Homo sapiens: one gene and its partner. The protein of the gene in region 2 interacts with the protein of the main gene of each other region in a pairwise test. Each region holds a gene or a part of one and is shown on either strand. Other genes may lie near its edges.

Region 1 (2,570 bases), on a different chromosome or scaffold from region 2:
TTTTACTGGAAATGAGAGGGAGTCGTCTAAGATTGCGTTTGGGAGTTATGTTGGTCTTTTTTTTTTTTCTCCCTTCAGCACCAGCAGAACCAAAATCGTGTGTGGTGGCAGATCCTCCTCTTCCTGCACAACCTTGCTTTGAATGGAGAAGAGAACAGGAACGGGGCAGGCCCTAGGTGAGGGTGGGCTGCCCTCTTCACATGGGGCACCAGGAACACCGTCTGGAACAGGAAGGACATCGGGCAGGACTGACACTGTGTCTTGTGAAATTGTTTTTTTGTTGTTATTTTGTGTTTTAATTTTTTTTAATTTCTCTCTGAGTGTACATACAACATACTCAAGCGGGACCTTCTTTCTCTGTCAGGCCCTTGACCTGGAATGGGGGCCTTTGTCAAACACTGTTGAAGGAGAGGCTGATGTGTCTGTGATGGTGAGAATTCCCAAGGGCTCTGACAAGTAGATTCTTCGACTGAGGAATCTACCAGTTGTCGAAGATGATCCGTTAGTGATGTTCTCTGGGAAGTGGACTGTGGTTTTTCCAGAGGAACTCAGTTAAGAAATCGAGAGTGGATTAGACTCCCAGTTCCACCAAACCTATGAGCCTTCCACTGTGGATGGGGGCCGTGATCCTGATGGTCACATTGCTTTAACCCAGCAGGGCTTCGGCCAGGGGCTTTCCACTTGAGGATAGCAGCTTCACTAGGCTGGCCGGCCAGCTCCACATCTGACTGGGTTCTTACTTCTCAGCCAGTACCTGCCCCATGGGCTCAAGGATTCCTGGCCAGCTCCTGCCACCTCCAGCAGACCTCAGGGAGGGTTGAGTTTCTCTAAGGACCCCTCAAACATGTCGCAAAATGAACCAAACTTCTGGCTAGGCCTCAAAACTGACTTGGTCCCACTTGGAGGCCCCAGGATTGGTCCTGAGGTACAGAGCCACTGCCACCACTGGCGGCCTGGGACCAGCTGGGTGTCAGCCACGGATGAGCCGAATAGCCAGTCAGCATGTTGCTGCTGGCAGCCTGTGCCTTTGTCAGCTCTTCTTTCAAAAGACCCCACCGACAGACCGCATTCCACCCCCAACATCGGCACTGAGGGACATCGGGGGCAAGTTTGCAGTGGGGCCGGAAAATATGGTGGCCACCCTACCATGAGAGTCAGCCGTAGGGGACCCCAGACCCCTTGGTTTCCTTGGAAACAACATACCTCTTCCCCCTTATCCCCAGTCCTTTTTCATACCTAGTGGGATACAGAAGAAGCCAGGACAGTGGCTTTGCCAGCTAAGTGACTTTTAGAGTAACAGATAACGATTAGAGTGGGGAACCGTCAAAGCTGGGTACACATTTCCTATCTTCCTCCAGCTTCCAGCTAGGCCAGAAGGGCATGCTCTGGAACCCAGCAGGATCACAGCTGCCTGTGCACGTCTTCCCTTCTCTCCCTGCTGCGGCACTTATGGAGAGGATCTAAAGCAGCCGGTGTGGCAGCTCCGATAGCAGGCACAGGGAATCTGTTAACCAGACGCTAGAAACTAAATTATAACTTTTGCATATGTGAGAAAAGACAACATTGGTGCTAACAGTGAAGTAAGGCCCAAAGGAAAGACGGCTTCCCTGGACAAAGAAGACCTCAGGGCTACCCAAGGAAATAGGAGGAGTCTAGAGTAGACTCACAAATCTGAACAAGCCCAAGTCTTCCAGTTCTGAGGAGAGGAGGTCTTCAGTACTATTGAAGGAGACATTGATCTTCTGGATGTACAGTTGTGCAGGTTGTTCACTGCACAAGGGCACCTGCAGCTAATGGAGGCTGGAATTCAGCTTGTGTTCTGCTCACTAAGCTGTGTGCGTGCCCTGGTGTGGGGCTACTTCTCCCAAGAAGAAGGGGTGCCTTTCCTAATTTGCAAAGGTGCCATATGGGCTCACAGCACCCTGGAGGAGAAGGGCCTCAAACTGTGCATGTAAGCCTTTGTTTTGTTCTGCTCAGATATTCTGGATATTACCTCTTCTTGGTCAGAATTCTATTCTCAGGGTGTGTACCATGATTTGTCTGCTAAGAAGACGGGTTCCTGCTTTGCAGAGAAGGAGCCGGGGACCAGCTTGAAGACTGGCTCTGGGACACACTGACCATTGTGAAATTCAGCCTTCCCTGTGGGTCTCCATACCATTTTATGATGTGTATGGGACATACGTTGTTCTCCCCTCTCTGGATCAAGGTGGTGACAGGCAGCCTGCTGCCGTATGCTTCAGTGGCACACACCAAAAAACCGGGATTATTTACAGCAGCCACTATTCACCCCTTTTGGCAGACTCTCCACCTGAGTTCAGTGAGAGAGAAAATGATTTAGATCTTGGTGCTGGGGCAAGGCCATCAGCTTCAGAGACCTTGCCAGGCCCAGGCTGGGTGCCCTGTGGCCTGAGAACTGAGCCCAGACTTTGACAAACCCACCTCAACATCAAGCCTGGGGCAGGTGGAAGGTGGTCTGACTGCACTGTCTCCATCTTATGCAAAGCCAGGAACTCACTCACTGTCTTAAGTGAGCCAGGGCAAAATTTACACCCCTCACGTTTCCCTCTCCC
Region 2 (3,825 bases):
CCTTCATCACAATCAATTTTACAACATTTTCATAATTCTCAAAAGAAATCCTGTACCCATTAGCAGCCACTCCCATTTCTCTCCAAATCCCTCAGCTCCTGGCAACCACTGGTCTGCTTTCAGTCTCTGTAGCTTTGCCTTTTCTGGACATTTCATATAAATGGAATCATACAATATGTGGCCTTTTGGTTCTGGCTTTTTTCATTTAGCCTGTGTCTAGAAGGTCCATCCATGTTGTAGCATGTGTCAGAATTTCATTTCTTTTTGTTGCCAAATAATATTCCATTATATGTATATATCACATTTTATTTACCTATTCAGAAGTTGACGGTTGCATTGTTTGCACCTTTTAGCTGTTTATAAACATTCATTACAAGTTTTTGTATGGATATATGTTTTCATTTCTCTTGGGTATATACCTAGACAGATTTCCTGGGTCATGTGGTAACTCTATATTTAACCTTTTAAGGAACTGCCAGACTGTTTTCCAAAGTAACTGGACTATTTTACATTGTCAGCAGCAGTGTATGTAGGTTCCAGTTTCTGCAAATCCTTGCCAACACTTGGTATTATCTGTCTTTTTTATTATAGCCGTCATAGTGATGTGAAGTGGTATCTCATGGTTTTGATTTGCATTTCTCTGATGACTGACAATGTTGAGCATCTTTTCATCTGCTAATTGCTAAGCTCCTTAAATGGAAAATTATAGGAAGCATAAAGCATGTTTGCAAAGAAGTGATTATATTCGCTAGGATTAAGATTTTAAGTGAATATTTAAGATGCCCATGACTAGTGTCCACTCTCTCGAATCAAGTTTTATTTAAACCATTGACTTTTCCTCATAACTGGAAATGGTCCCAGTGAAAGTCTCCCTCACTTGCTGGAATGTGGGGCCATCTCTGCTGTCTGTCAAGCCTTGATGCCCAAGTGGCCATTTTCTCCTGGAGTCTGCATCAGATGGTAGAGTGTGTGTTTCCTGAGTGTGAGACTGGATCTGCTCCACAATGCTTTGCTGGTTAACTCCTTCCAAGAGTGCAATACCCAGGGGTCACTCCTACTCTTAGTGCTCTGGGGCCTGGGCCCTTAACACACTCAATGTTTCTTCCCCTTTTCTCACTTATCTGATCTTCTGCTACTTCTTTCTCCTTTGTCCGCCCCTGCTCTCTGGTTTCTCTTGTACACTCTGTTTATTTAATTTTGATCATTTGTTTGTTTGTTCCTTTCTTCCTCCTTTAACAAATTCAAATAGGATACAAGCCACTCTGTCCCATCTCCTGCCCTTGCCTTCTCTTCTTTCATTCTTTTATTAACTGATTTTTCTCTTGAGAAATCACCACTGGGTCAGGTGTGGTGGTGGCTCATGCCTGCAATTCCAGCAGTTTGAGAGGCTGAGGCAGGAGGATCACTTGAGGCCAGAAGTTCGAGACCAGCCTGGGCAACATAGGGAGACCCTGTCTCTATAAAACATAAAAAAATTAGCCTGGTATGGTGGTGCAAGCCTGTAATCCCAGTGCTTTGGGAGGCTGAGGTGGGGAGGATCCCTTGAGCCCAGGAGTTTGAGGCTGCAGTGAGCTGTGATGGCGCCACTGCGCTCCATCCTGTGCAACAGAACAGGACCCTGTCTCTAGAAACAAAACAAAACAAAAAACCCAAAACATGCCATTGATTTGGCAGAAAAGGACAGGGTTCCTGGCAAGGCTACCAAAAACATGATCTCTGTCAGAAAACATACTATCTGCAATATTTGTTGGAATCTGAGAATGGGAAATGTAGCTTTCTTCTCTCCAGGAGTGCCCTGTTCACAGCTGTGGGATAATGATCAATAGTTCCTAAAAATATCTATGGAAGACCTCACCACTCTTATTGATCAGCAACTACTGCAAAGATAATGTTTCAGCATTTGAAACCCCTTATTATTAATACTTATTCTGTATGGGTCAAGTAGCCGCTAACTTACAGTTTGGCAGATGGATCAAGTATAATAATAATAACCTATAAATACTAATAAATGAGCCAGTATAGTATAAGTGAGTACTATACTAAGCAGTGAAGGAAGAATAATTTCATGGAGGGAAGTCCACGGTAGAAGCAGGCTGCTAGGTATTATTATCGTTTTCACATACTATTCACTTTATGAAGAGATTTAACATAGCTCAGGGTAATATGGTCTCATTCAAATGCCAAAATGACCCCTCAGTTCTTCTTTCTCTCCTTTCCCGATAGAGGTGGCCCTAAGGACACACATCTGGGACAATACGGCCATTTTTAGCCTTGACCCAAGAGATCTGGGTTCCCCATGACTGGAGTGGAAAACAATGTCTGTGGGTTTGTGTTTTTCAGAGTCAAGGGTCCAGAGAAGGAGGAGAAGTTGAGACAGGCGGTCAAGCAGGTGCTGAAGTGTGATGTGACTCAGAGCCAGCCACTGGGGGCCGTCCCCTTACCCCCGGCTGACTGCGTGCTCAGCACACTGTGTCTGGATGCCGCCTGCCCAGACCTCCCCACCTACTGCAGGGCGCTCAGGAACCTCGGCAGCCTACTGAAGCCAGGGGGCTTCCTGGTGATCATGGATGCGCTCAAGAGCAGCTACTACATGATTGGTGAGCAGAAGTTCTCCAGCCTCCCCCTGGGCCGGGAGGCAGTAGAGGCTGCTGTGAAAGAGGCTGGCTACACAATCGAATGGTTTGAGGTGATCTCGCAAAGTTATTCTTCCACCATGGCCAACAACGAAGGACTTTTCTCCCTGGTGGCGAGGAAGCTGAGCAGACCCCTGTGATGCCTGTGACCTCAATTAAAGCAATTCCTTTGACCTGTCCAGTTGACTTTAGTCCTTGTTTCTAACTGCCAAGTCATGTGCTGAGTAGAGGCTCAGTGGTTGGGGCCCAATGGTTCATCTAGGACGGGACTAGAGAGGTCAGTCTACAAGCAATCCATTGACCACTTACTTGGTGCTGCACACAAATGTTGGTGCTATGGGACCCAAAGATGAGCAATTAGTATTCCAGTCTTCATTGCCTGTGCTTACAAAAGAAGACCTCACTTCCCTAAACATCTAGTTATGGCGGCTCAAGCCCGTACCTGCCTACAGAGAAGTGTCTGCAGTTACTCACTATTAGTTTCCTAAGGGGGCACTGCTGGCTCCTTCTCTCCCAGGAATGGGCTTCTCCTATTCTTTAACTCTTGCCTTCTCCCTGGAGAGGCTACCAAACCCTGGCCTCTGCCGCTGTTCAGGCTGCCATGTGGGTATAGCTGTTTGCTAGACTCCACTCTGGCCTCAGGGGCCAGAGAACAGCTGTCCAGCATTTCTGTTCATCCCAGCAATCCAAAAAAAAATTTTTTTAAGCTACAAAGATCACTCCATTTTCAAATTCAGACTCTGCCACTTATTAGCTGTTTCTCATTAGGCAAGTTATATAACCTTGCAGTGCCTCACTTTCCTCATCTATAAAATGAGATTAAAATAGTCTTTTTATTAAGAGAATTAAAGTGAATTGTGGCCAGGCACTGTGGCTCATGCCTGTAATCCCAGCGCTTTGGGAGGCTGAGGCAGACAGATTGCTTGAGCTCAGAAGTTCGAGACTGGCCTGGGGAACATGCAAAAACCCTGTCTGTATTAAAAATACAAAAAAATTAGCTAGGTGTGGCGGCATATGCCTGTGGTCCCAGCTACTCAGGAGGCTGAAGTGGGAGGATGGCTTGAGCCCGGGAGGCGGAGGTTGCAATGAACTGAGATCGCACCACTGTGTTCCAGACAGAGTGCGATGCTGTCTCGAAAAAAGTAAAATAATAAATAAATAATAAATAAAATAAAATAAAGTGAATTGTTAC

The links.
Region 1: the proteins of NNMT (region 2) and BMF interact in a two-hybrid assay, tested with the Homo sapiens proteins (one large-scale study listed by BioGRID and IntAct).

Annotation. Positions count from the first base shown.
Region 1 is NC_000015.10:40,089,397-40,091,966, reverse strand, and holds part of BMF (bcl-2-modifying factor), read left to right. Parts: intron 1-78; coding exon 79-180; 3' UTR 181-2,570. UniProt on the Homo sapiens protein: May play a role in apoptosis. Isoform 1 seems to be the main initiator.
Region 2 is NC_000011.10:114,309,705-114,313,529, forward strand, and holds part of NNMT (nicotinamide N-methyltransferase), read left to right. Parts: intron 1-2,340; coding exon 2,341-2,773; 3' UTR 2,774-3,825. UniProt on the Homo sapiens protein: Catalyzes the N-methylation of nicotinamide using the universal methyl donor S-adenosyl-L-methionine to form N1-methylnicotinamide and S-adenosyl-L-homocysteine, a predominant nicotinamide/vitamin B3 clearance pathway.